Linked DNA regions of Homo sapiens: regions 2, 3 and 4 are each reported to be linked to region 1. Evidence: microRNA targets listed by miRTarBase, many of them from high-throughput screens and not tested one by one. Region 1 holds a microRNA gene; each other region holds the end of a gene's coding sequence.

The links. The annotated mature microRNA hsa-miR-5006-3p reads UUUCCCUUUCCAUCCUGGCAG and lies in region 1 at 1,268-1,288, shown strand. An mRNA with a match to its seed (bases 2 to 7 or 8) in the 3' UTR can be bound and repressed. Matches are read on the target gene's strand: a 7mer-m8 pairs with bases 2 to 8, a 7mer-A1 pairs with bases 2 to 7 and ends in A, and an 8mer does both.
Region 2: miRTarBase lists UGT2B28 as a target of hsa-miR-5006-3p. Seed matches in the 3' UTR shown: 7mer-A1 at 2,228-2,234.
Region 3: the mRNA of AFF4 is a reported target of hsa-miR-5006-3p. The part of its 3' UTR that is shown has no 7-base or 8-base seed match.
Region 4: miRTarBase lists UFD1 as a target of hsa-miR-5006-3p. The part of its 3' UTR that is shown has no 7-base or 8-base seed match.

The regions. Positions count from the first base shown.
Region 1 is chr13:41,566,324-41,569,593 of GRCh38, reverse strand. MIR5006 (microRNA 5006) reads left to right here and starts at 1,199; the gene lies at 1,199-1,308. VWA8 (von Willebrand factor A domain containing 8) reads left to right here. Exons shown (of 45, transcript NM_015058.2): 45 at 1,289-2,759. The coding sequence ends at 1,397.
Region 2 is chr4:69,294,257-69,297,256 of GRCh38, reverse strand. UGT2B28 (UDP glucuronosyltransferase family 2 member B28) reads right to left here. Exons shown (of 6, transcript NM_053039.2): 6 at 2,207-2,727. The coding sequence ends at 2,448. Among named protein-coding and RNA genes, the nearest start is that of UGT2B28, 15 kb to the right of the region's middle.
Region 3 is chr5:132,878,405-132,881,404 of GRCh38, forward strand. AFF4 (ALF transcription elongation factor 4) reads right to left here. Exons shown (of 21, transcript NM_014423.4): 21 at 1-2,782. The coding sequence ends at 2,655. Among named protein-coding and RNA genes, the nearest start is that of LEAP2, 6.2 kb to the left of the region's middle.
Region 4 is chr22:19,447,736-19,451,005 of GRCh38, forward strand. UFD1 (ubiquitin recognition factor in ER associated degradation 1) reads right to left here. Exons shown (of 12, transcript NM_005659.7): 12 at 2,176-3,009. The coding sequence ends at 2,935. UFD1-AS1 (UFD1 antisense RNA 1) reads left to right here. Exons shown (of 2, transcript NR_186687.1): 1 at 1-590. Among named protein-coding and RNA genes, the nearest start is that of C22orf39, 1.7 kb to the left of the region's middle. RefSeq lists an enhancer at 1-74.

The DNA.
Region 1 (3,270 bases):
TTTTCATACTCTGTGACTGGAAATGTTTTAATATCCAAAATGCTAGCAGCTTTTTCTCTTTCTATTCCCTTTGCCTTGCTGTAAGGTTGCAGAGCGAGGTTGAGAACAGACTTAATATCATGTAGTTACAGTCATTTTATGACATGACTTTTCATTCTTCTTAGTTTTTACAAGTTAGCACTTTGCATCTTTTAGAACCTCCACATCCTCAAACACAAACTATGCCTTTTCCACCCAGGTTTTCCTCAGCATCAGCCCAGTATTAGGCAGACAACAAGCTCAACAAATACTAGTTGAGATGAAATGGCTATTTTGTCTTTCTAGTGAACAGATCCTGTTTGAATACTTAAGAAAGCACAATAATACCCTTGTGGTTTCCTAGGGAAATGGTCCAACATCCACTGGCAAAAGATATGTTGCAGAATTAGCTGGCTTACCAGGCATGCCAAATATACGATACTACACAGGATGGTTGAATTTTATTAAATGTCATTCCAAAGCCAGACTTCACTGGCACAGTGAAAGGAGGCGTTCTTTTGAAGAGAACTGTGTCTTACAGTTTTGTTGCCTTCAAAATGGCCTTTTGTTCCAAATTATAAATTAGTATTTAAAAAAGTATCGTAACTTCAATGACATGTTATTTTTAAGGATAATTCAAATCAAAACCCATTATAAGTTTTTTAAAATTCACTTAAAAATGAGTTGGAAAAAATTTCATAAGCCTGTATAACCTCAGTGTCATTGAAGCAGTAATTGGACAATCCAGATCGCATTTCACATTGTGTGATGTGGACCAAAAAAAAGAGAGAGAGGCAAAGAAAGAGAGAAAGAACCACTCAGGGTTTGGCTGCGCAGCGTTTTTAGAGGCCTGTTTTCTAAGGAAGGAAAAGCACTTCGAAATACAGTGTAAGGTCAACATATTTGCTAGACCCGGGAGGTGAGCTGATTCCATATGAATCCCTATGGCTCTGTTATACCAAAAGAATATGAAATACCAAGAAATGGCAGTAAAGAAAGGAAGAAAATTTTTTCTTTTCAAATTCACTGACTTTCTCACTGAAAAGACCTTTCTTTCAGTTCCCTGCTTTTGCTGTGTCTTTCCTTGTTGCTCTTCCAAGCCTTTCATTGTTTAATGACGACTAATTCAATGGTAGGCAGAGAGCAAGGTATTAGAAAGTAAAAACTTCCTTTCCTAAGAAACCATTAGGGGGCTGTGGTTTGCCAGGGCAGGAGGTGGAAGGGAGCCCCATTTACAGTGGTAACTTCCTTTCCCTTTCCATCCTGGCAGGCTTCAGAGAACTTTACCAGCTGGTCGGTCTTTCGTTGCCATGGATACCAAGGATATCCCTCAGATTTTACAACAGATCTTCACCTCCACCATGTTGTCGAGTGTCTAAGAAGTGCCCTTCATCACCCTGATGACACCAGGATTTGAAATAAGACAGGAATAAAGAGTATTCTGAAAAAAAGAAGATATGGATGAAGTGAACCCATGCAGTGACTGGATGATTCCGGCATTCCTGGGTCTTCCTACACTTGCTCCGTAATGAGAATTCAGAGAAGCAGCCAGAAGGAGACTTAAACATGGAAAGATACTCCACTGATGAGTTTAGAAGTGATTAGGGCAAGCTAGTTGACCTGCACTTTATCAAAGGTTGGGGTTAAAGGAAGGTGGTTTTGAGAACTATGTGTTTGGTCTATTTCCAAAAACCTGAGGGGGAGAAAATACTTTGCTTTTGCCTTAACACATCATCTGGTCACGTTAGAAAAGTGACCCCATCAAACTGAGCCTTTGATGTCACATTCTGACACAAGATGCAAGTCTGTGCAAAACCCACCAAAATGCTCCTATCCAACAATTATTTTTATTTTCTCCCTGCTCTGTATTGACCAGAAAACAATGATTTTATAATATTTAACCCACCAAAAAGTCCCTCCAACAGCAATATCTTATGAAAGTCTGGCTGTTCTCAATAATTTCATTTTCTTGGCCAAAGCCAAAAGGAATCAAAAAATCCTTGGAGTGCTTGCCTTTCCACGTGACTTTTAAAAGGCTCTTAAAGAGCAAATGTCCTCTTCTCCTTGCTGCTAGAGTGGGAGGAGAAAGATGTCTTGCCTTAAAAGTTTACTGTTTCTTCTGTTCTTCTAGCATCTCTCAAAAAATTCACAGTACTCCATTTTGGGGTCCAAACTGTAATGCTCAAAATAATAAATGCTTACACGAAAATTATTTATTGAGAATATTCATATAAAAATTACCTAAAGCAAAGTAAAAAAAGTAAAATCAAGGTGGTATATTTGAAGTGAATGGTGATTGGAAATTTTTAGCTGTAACAAAAAGAAAGAAAACAACTTTTTTTAAAGCCTCATTCTCTTTTCTTTCAAAATGTACCTTATTCCCACACACTCTTGGGCTGACCTTTATTTTATCAATAAGCTCAATATTACTTTGTTTAAAATAAGATGCTTCAGCAAAAGTCATTCTCTCTTTAACCATATAATTTAAAAACTCCTCTTCACGATTGATAGCAAAATCAGAAACGTTAGGGCACCAGTGAGTTGAAAAAACTGGTCTTAAGTTGGAAAAACTATTATTAATAATATTATCCTATCCATCCATATCTATTGAAATTGTACAGGTCCATAATTTCATTTTAATTAATTATAGGAAAGAAGAAAAGATAATACCCATTTGTTCTATCACCCCTCTCCCTATCATTAACTATCAAATAAATAAATAAAAGCAATCTGATTTCCAACGTGGTACTACCTGGTGAGTTTGCATGGCTTTCTTGTTCCTCTAGTGAGACACCTGCTCCATGTATTGAACCATTCAATGATGCAAACAATTTCAATCCAACATGTATCTTTAAAAATGTAATTGCATTCCAACGGTCGCCACAACAGCAGCTAGCATTTACTGATGATTTACTGTGAACCAGGTATATGCTAAGTGATTGCATACATTATTTCATTCATCCTTACAACAATGCATGTAACAGGGGTATTTTTTACCTTATTTTGCAGATGATAAAGAAAGTGAGGCTCAGAGAATTTAAGTCACTTTCCCAAGATTCCTGTTACTAGACCTTTCACTAACTATTCATGGTACCATTAACATCCTCATTTTACAAGTAAAGAAACTGAGGCTTAGAGAAGTTCAAGAAAATAGGCCACACTCACAGCCAGGCAGGGGCAAAGCTGGGCCTCCAGCCTCCAGGCCCCTTAATGCCTTTGCGTCCCTCGCAGTCCCACGCCCCTTGCTGCATC
Region 2 (3,000 bases), not on the chromosome of region 1:
ACCTATCGCACTACTGTGTATCTTCCCGGAGGAAAGAAAATTTTTATATGAAAAAGACCCACACACATACATGTTTGCAACAGTACTATTCGCAATTAAAAAAGAAAAAGAATGGAACAAGCCTAAATGCCCATCAACCAACCAATAAGTGGATAAAGAAAATGTGGTATACATACAAACACACACACACAGATGTTGCAGGAAGTCAGGGATCCCGAATGGAGGGACTGGGTGGAGCTGAGGCAGAGGAACATAAATTGTGAAGATTTCACTTTAATATGGACATTTATCAGTTCCCAAATAATACCTTTAGAATTTCTTATGCCTGTCTTACTTTAATATCTTAATGCTGTTATCTTCATAACCTGAGGATGTACATCACCTCAGGGCCACTGTGATAATTGTGTTAACTGTACAAAGTGCTTGTAAAACATGTGTGTTTGAACAATAAGAAATCAGTGCACCTTGAAAAAGAACAGAATAACAACAACATTTAGGGGACAAGGGAAGACAACCATAAGGTCTGACTGCCTGTGAGGTGGGGCAAAAAGAGCCATTTTTTCTTCTTTCAGAGAGCCTATAAATGGACGTGCAAGTAGGGAAGATATCGCTAAATTCTTAGCCTAGCAAGGAATATTAATATTAGTAATCTGGGAAAGGAATGCATTCCTGGGGGGAGGTCTATAAACAGCCACTCTGAGAATGTCTGTCTTACGTGGTTGAGATAAGGACTGAGGTATGTCCTGGTCTCCTGCAATACCCTCAGGCTTATTAGGGTGGGGAAAATCTCCACCCTGGTAAATTTGTGGTCAGACCAGTTCTCTGCTCTCGAACCCTGTTTTCTGTTGTTTAAGATATTTATCAACACAATACATGCACCACTGAACATAGACCCTTATCAGTAGTTCTGCTTTGCCCTTTGTCCTGTTCCCTCAGAAGCATGTGATCTTTGTTCTGCCTTTTGTCCTTTGAAGCATGTGATCGTTGTACCTACTCCCTGTTCCTACACAACTCCCCACCCCACCTTTTGAAACCCTTAATAGAAAACCTGCTGGTTTGAGGCTCAGGTGGGCATCATGGTCCTACCAATATGTGATGTCACCCCCGGCAGCCCAGCTGTAAAATTCCTCTTTTTGTACTCTTTCTCTTTATTTCTCAGCTGGCCAACACTTATGGAAAATGGGAAGAACCTACATTGAAATATTGAAGGTGGGTTCCCCTGATACAAACACACACAAACACACACACACACACACGTATACACACGCATATACACTATATATATATATATATATATATATATATATATATACCATGGAATACTACTAAGCTGTAAAAAGAAACAAACTAATGGCATTAACAGCAACTTGCATGAAGTGGGAGAGCATTATTCTAAGTGAAGAAATTCAGGAATAGAAAACTGAACATCGTCAATTGTCACTTCTAAGTGGGATCTAAGCTATAAGGATGCAAAAGCATAAAGATGATGTAATGGGCTCTAAGGATTCAGATGGGAGTGTGGGAGGGGGTGAGGGATAAAGAGTATACATTCAGTGCAAGGTACACTTCTCACATGATATGTGCCACGTAACCTCAGAAATTACCACTAAAAAACGTATGCATCTAATCAAACACCACCTGTTCCCAAATAACTATTGAAGTAATTAAAAATATCAGAATAAAATCAACGAGAAAAATATCTTTAAATATCTGGAAAAAATAGAATTTGCTCATGAAACCAAAGATGTGGCAAAACAGTTCAATTTTACAGTAGGAAGCAGGTAACAGTGGCTATATTTCTAATTTCACATAATTTCCACTGAGAAATGACTTATGCTCTTAAAACAGTAAACATTTGGCCATCAATTTTAGCAAAAAATGTGACAATGAAGCTGCATGCAGTGTAAAAGTAAAGCAATACTACTTATCTCAAGATATCAAAAGGAAGAGAGAGACTTTTTATACAATTTAACTATGTAATAGTTTCTTTAGCAACAGTTAAAACAACCGAATCCTGTTCAAAATGAAGCCAAATTATTCTGAGTATGTGCAAAACACTACTGATACTGTCAGTAGACTTCTTAATGTTCTTGTGTTTATATAAAATGTGTGAAATGTAGTTAAACTGAGTAATATTTTTATGTAACTTGTGAATTCAAACAACAAATCTCAATATAAGTGCAACAAATTTCAATATGAGCTCATATGGCTTTATATTATTTTTTATTTTCCCTAGTGTTTTCTTCATTGCCACAGAATATTTCTAACCATTACCTGGGTGGTAAATCTCTGAAAAACAAATTTTTACTTGACAAGGTAGATTTTGAAAAGTTTTTTTTTTTGTCACAGGAAGAAAGAAATCTTGCATAACAATCTTTTCTTTCTTGCTGGAATAAACTGATGTCAACCCATCTATCTGGTTTTCCAGCTTCAAATGTCAGACATAACTAATCTCTTTTTCCCTTCTTCCCTTTTCTAGCAAACTTCCAGAAACAAAACAGACAAAACTTTGTGACGACAAATATCACAGTTGCCACACAGGCCAGCAGAAACCCAATCACATCCAAAGAGTGGTACTGGAACCAGGTGAGGTCACGGGCTGCAACTCGAAGGTGTTTGGCTCCTTTGTGGCACATCACAAATTCAATCCAGAAGACTGCTCGATGCAGGGGCTTTACTGGTTGATCATGTTGAATTATTGATAATTTCATAACATTCTCTTTATATCTGAAGGATAAAAATAAAGATACCAACACTGAAAGTAAGTTAACTGGCCTGTATGTATCAAGTCTATGAAAGGCTTTTAAAGTGTCAAATAATTCAAAGTAAATTTGAAAGAATTGACAGAGAATTTGTGTATTTTAATTTGAGTCATCATAGATAGTTGGGCTTTTAAATTGGACTTTTCTCATTGACAAACATTTTTAAAGCAGAAATGGAAGGTCAGGTGAGAAAATTAATTTTTTTCAAGCAGAGAAAATATAAGGCATTTTAATTGTT
Region 3 (3,000 bases), not on the chromosome of region 1:
AGACTAAGTTTTTAGCCACTTGTCAAATTCAGTTTTAAATGCTTAGAAAACACTGAGGACACCTATTGAGGAGGGAGGGGGGAAGGTCACCTGTAAAGGAGTCCAAAGTATGTGCTGGAGCAGATGATGACAAAGACAGAACATCTAAGAAGATAGACATGGAGGAAAGGGAGTAGTATTTCCACACACTATGACATTGAAAATTCAATCATTTATGATAGGATTTTGATCCATTGCCCATTACTACCTTGTGGGAAAAATCCTCCACAATGAAAAGGTTGAAAAATTCATTCTCCAAAAATTGACACAGTTTTAAAGAGAAAATATTAGAGCAGCACCATAAACCATGCAGGAAACTCTGCTTTAACAAAATATCAGTGTGACCCCAAAAATGCTCCTGCTGCCTTTCAGGACATACAAGAGACTAGAACACAAGAACTCAGAGGTATCCCACTGGCTGTTGTTGCTGAAAGTCTGAAAGCCCAGAGGATACTTTTTCCATTTCTAAGACATCACTGCAAATTAAGGAATCCAAGTCAGAAAAATCAGAGAAGGACAAGACATAACATGTATTTGATTAACAACCATTATTTCTTACTAAATAACTATCATGATCATTGAGAAGTTGTCCTCTTATGGAAAACTGTTCCTAGAACACACTAAGATTAAGTTAGAAAGATATCAGAGGCAATTTCTCCAAGAGAAACAGGTTAAATTCAACATAATTTGTACATCTCAATCTTCAATGACATCTAAAAACAATCTGAGGTACAAAACAGTTAAGAAGCTCTATAAATATGAGGCCACAGGGACAATGAAAGTTCACTAACTTCAGAAATAAGTGTAAAAAAGTCTCAAACACAAAGGATTCACTGCACTACTGGACTTGAAACTTTTCTATCCCTTCTTTCCCCTTTCCTATTTCAAGCCTTAGCAATCATCTACAAATAGTAGGATAATCTTTTTTTCTGACTGAATGGATTCATTTTTGGAATGGGGAGAGGGACAAACTATTTTTCAAAGCAGCATTACCCAACTGGTTAGACTAAGTCATGTACCAAAGCAATAGCTTTTCTGAAAGAACTAATCTTTATATGACCCTAAAGAAAGATTTAAAATGAAAGAATTGAACATTATTATTGTAGAAGACCAATCATGTATGGACGATCTGGTCCTAGTGTAAAACTTCATTTGTAAACAATCCATAGAGTCTTCATTTAAAGGTAAGATTTAAGGCACACCAAACATGATAGGGGCATGAAAAATAAAGTATAGAGGGTACATTTCTTATCTTAGACTTCTATATGCACCTTGTAGCAAAAGGTACTTTGATATACAACTCTTACAGAGCCAGCTTCTTTAAGCTCTACCCCTGGCTCCACTCCCTGTCCCAAGAGCTCACACTGAATCAAGTTAGGTACACTTTTCTAGTGTGAAATTTTCTGATTCCATCAGAAACATACATCATTGAAGAGGGCCTTCATAATGCAAAAGGAGTAAACAGAAGATAGGTTTAAAAAGGAGAAATTCATCATCTCTACATCAGGCATTAGAACTGTAAGCTGTATAGCAAAAGCACACACCGAAGCTCCAGCCTATTTCTGTATCAGTCATTGCATGCTCATATCAGAGCATCACAATCCAGTATGAGGGGGAAAAATCTGAAAAATAACTCTAACTATCAAAGATAATCAATTAAAGACACACAGGCGGCAATCCTCAGGAGTTGGATCATCCTTTTTTCCACAGTAACTTATTCTGTTTCGATTAAGTGTCAAATGATTAGCAACAAAAAATAACATATGGTTTTAATAAAATCCGTAACGTTCAGGATTGTCCTTTTATGAAACCCTTCAACATGAAATGCTTCTTCTAGAAAGTTTGTCCTCCCTCTTTTGTAATGCATTAAATGCAAGCTATAGTCACTGTGTGATTGCTGTAGTGTTATTAACACACATTCACAGTTTTTGAAATAATGCATACCAAATCAGACACATTTCATAGTACATACATGTAGAATGCCATTTTCTCATATTTAAGTGATTTTTTCATGTGTAGAAGAATATCCTTAATACTAACTGTAAATTCCACAATAATAAAATTGGAGTTAAGATTTCAAATATCAGGTCAGGTAGCAGGTGTAGAAAGAATATGTCCTTATTTTAGACGAACCAATTCTTACTCTTAGAACAGCTACCACAAAAAGATATTAGGTAATAAAGCTCCCAAGGTATATAAATAAAAATGTCTACATTAAATTTATGCTAAATATTCAACAGAGTAAATTTATAGGCAGAAATAACTAAGTCTTAAACTAGCCCCAATCTGGGAACTTAAAAAAATTAAAATAAATAAAATTTCAATTCATTAGTTATGAATTGCAACTGGAATTTCAATCTTATCATAGCTCACGGAAACCATCTTATCAATGTGCTGCAGATTTAAAAGCATTTAAATAATCTTTCACATTGGAAATATTAAAGGGCCAACTGACATGATCGCTTTGGATTATCAAAAACAACAACACATGAACCAACGAGGAGAAAACTATTCCTCATTCTTAGTGTCGACTAGGTGGTATGTTATGGCAGTTTTCCTTCGTGATGTGACACAGTGTTGTGGAGAAAATCAGAGGCAACGAGAATGTGTTCAGTTCAAGATATCAACTTGGCATCCTGGCGAAGCCAGTGCAGTCCCTGCCGGGTATAACGAACTAGATCTGTCATGATGCTTGCATTAAAGATGAGAGGGCCCATTACTTTATCCAGTTCAGCAAAGAATTCTAGAAAACCAAAAACATTCATTAAATGATATATACTCTTTTGAATCACTGCTTTAAAACTATGAGTAGAGATTATAAAACAGCATTCATAAACTCAAAAAATACCTCCTCCTACACTAAAATGCTTACTGTCCATGTTTTAGAGCAAATCATTCCATAGTCTCTCAAGTTACATTTGTTCCCTAAGTCATGCAACATTTTAAACAGAATGTATGGTC
Region 4 (3,270 bases), not on the chromosome of region 1:
TGAAAAATGAAGAAAACGGCACCTCGTGATCGACTGACAGAAGAACTAATGAGCACCGACACATTCAATCACGTCTTCGCCCCCTTCTTCGAGAAGCGCCGACAAACAGGACGAGCAACCAATAGCAACCGAGGGCGGCTGCGGCGCGCGCGGAGGGCCGGGGTCGCAGGGTAAATCCGGGGCGAGACCTGGCGCGAAGCCTACGCGACCACCGCGACGACAGCGCCATTCACCCCGGGCCAGGCGGGCATCCTGGGCCGCGCAGCTACCTTACGTCAGCCGCCTCTCAAATCACACGGCTCTGGCCAGTTCTTTTCAGCAGCTTTATGAGATTTTCTCAAATCTCAACAATCCGGTATATTTTCAAAAGTACATACTGAGCATCAAGGTGGTGCAGCGAACCTCCCAGATCTGCAGCTCCAGCAGTCTTGCTTGAGCGTCCACTCAGGATGGAGGTGAACTCGCAAAGTAACTGAGATTGGTTGGGCATGACATATGGTGGATCTAGGGTTGAATGACCTCCCCAGGGAACGCAGGCTTGAAGTGGAGGCTGAGAATGCAATCCGAGTACAGCCATAGGCCGGTCAAAGGTATGGAGGCGGTGTGTAGCAGGGGTGAGCGGGGTAGGAGTGGCTTGGATGTCTGTAGTTCTATTCTAAGGGTGCGGGAGACATGTAACATTTACCTTATTCATTTTTCGAGACAGGGTCTTGCTGTGTCACCCAGGCTTAGTGCAGTGGCGTGGCGTGTTCATGGCTTACTGCAACCTCAAACTCCTGGACTCCGAACAGCTGGGACCAAAAGCATGCACAGCCTCACCAGGCTAATTTTTAATTTTTTTTTTTTTTTTTTGTAAAGATGGGGTCTTGCTAAGTTACCCAGGCTAGTTTGGCCTCAAGCGACCCTCTCACTTTGGCCTCCCAAAGTGCTAGGATTATAGGCGGAGCGCCAGTGCCTGGCTGGGACGTTTATAAAAAGGAGCAATGCACAAGAGGCAACAAAGGCAAGTAAAGAGGAGGCTGGTGGGCTTGCAGAAACGCCCTGCAGTACCTATGCTGCGGTTCTCCCACTTCACTGATAACAAATCCTCAGTATCCACTGATACAAATCCTGGGACTGCTGGGCCAGTCCCAGGAATGACACTGGGACAGACTCCCTGGAGGTGGATCAGAAAGCTGCAGTTTTACCAGGGGTCCTGCTGTTGAGGCAGCCGGCTCAAGGACCAAGCCCAAATAAGACACTGAGAGGAAGGCTGCAGGCCAGGGTGCAGGAGTAATGACCAGGATCAGTGCTCCAACTGGCCCCACTGTGTCATTAAAAGGCTCTGCAATGGAATCCATCCTGGTCCAGGCAGGGGAGTGTGCCTCCAGCAAAGGACCAGGCGTTTCACTGCATACACAGCAGGTGTTGCTTAGTGAAGACAAAAACCCAGAGCCAGAGGTACTGTAACATTCTTCATTATGCATAAAGTGACAGTCTGTTAGCTGATGTGATCCTGCAAATGAAGGCTGTCTACCCACCAAGGGTTTCTCCCTCTGCTAGTAAAACTGAGACTTTGTCAGTGGAGGCTCAGGTAAGTCCCCACAGTGCTCATGCCTTCCAAAACCACGCCCATTTCCAGTGATGATGGTTTGTGCCACAGGCCAAGTACTGAACATCATGACACTCATAGACACTCTTCACTGAAGACGTGGATAGACCCTGGGGCCACCATTCTCTCCTCTCTGGAGTGTTGGAGGGGCCCTGACCAGGGCAGGACCCCCATGTCTGGAAGCAGGGTTAGCCCTGGCTCATGGGGGACCCTGCTGGGCTTAGCCATTGCCACCTAGGGATCAGGCAGCCTTGTTTCTTCCTACTTTCTCCAGGAGAAGCCCCAGAGGGACACTTTTCTAATGGTGAGATGGAACACGGAGCACCTGCCAACAGGCCTTCAGTTATGGTCAGAGGCCCAACCACCAGTCTGTGTTAGTACCTAATCAAACATTTAGATTTAGGCTTTAGTTATTGCCTGTTTTTACTTGAAATTCTTGGCTTAGAATTATTCCCAATGGGGCCAGGCACAGTGGCTCATGGGAACAAATTTAAAATAATCAGATTAGCATGTCAAAAGATCTCACGTTATAGAAAGTGAAGATCTAAGACCAAATAAATACTGATAAAAAATACAGGCCAGCAGAAGCTTGGATGATTTAATAAATTAAAATTGGGAGTTGGGGAGTAGGGAAGAAGGAGAGGAACATCTCTTTAGCATTTGTTCATTCTAACATTCACATGTTTGCTTCTCCATGGAGTTGTTTCACTATGAACAGGTTCACTAAGGAGCCAGTTATGTCCATATGAAATGAGAATAAAAGTGCAAACTCATTCAGATCAGGTTCTTCTGAGTGGTGTTTTTGAAAAAAATATGTAAAATAAAAATAGAAACATTCTTTGTCAAATACTTAAATTGCAGCCACAGTAGTGGGACAGCCACTACTTATAGAACACATGTCTATTTAAAGCCTTTTTTTAGGCCAAAGACTGACACCTATGCAATTGATGTAGGAAAAGAAAGGATAAATGAAGAAAAAGAAAGAACACTTCATGTTAGACAATTTAGTCACCTTCATAGGTTTTGACAGAATTAGGGATGCAGAATTGCTCCTGCTGAGGCAGTGGGAGCTCCCCTCAAGCTGAAAGCGTGAAGAGGTGAGGAGGCAGCTATCTACAGGCCCTCAGGGACAGCTCTTTGTCTTTCCCCAAATCAAGCATACAACTACAAAGTCCTGCTGCTCCACTTCCAAGTCAAACTTAATAATTCTTAGGTAACTCTAAATAAATCTTAAGTAACAGAGTATTCTCTGATGAGGCTCGTCCCTGTCAGTGCCAGTAACTAAAAGCCAAGATGTTGCAAATGATTCTTTTATTATTTTCCAATCAGCCAACAGTCCTCACTTAGGGCTTTCTTCCCTTTTTACGCAATGACTGTCCTTCTCCAGAGAAAGCGACGAATCTGCCTCCAGCTTCATCCTAGGTTTGAAGAGAAGATACTATTTTCAGAAACTCCCTGGAGGTTTACAATAAATGCCTTACTCTATGGACTCACGTACCATCCACATTACTCATAAGAAATATCTCAGGCTGGACACGATAGCTGACACCTGTAATCCCAGCACTTTAGGAGGCCTAGGTGGGAGGATCACTTGAGCCCAGGAGTTCAAGACCAGCCTGGGCAACATAGTGAGATCCCATCTCTACCAAAAATAGCTCAGTGTGGTATGTGCCTATGAT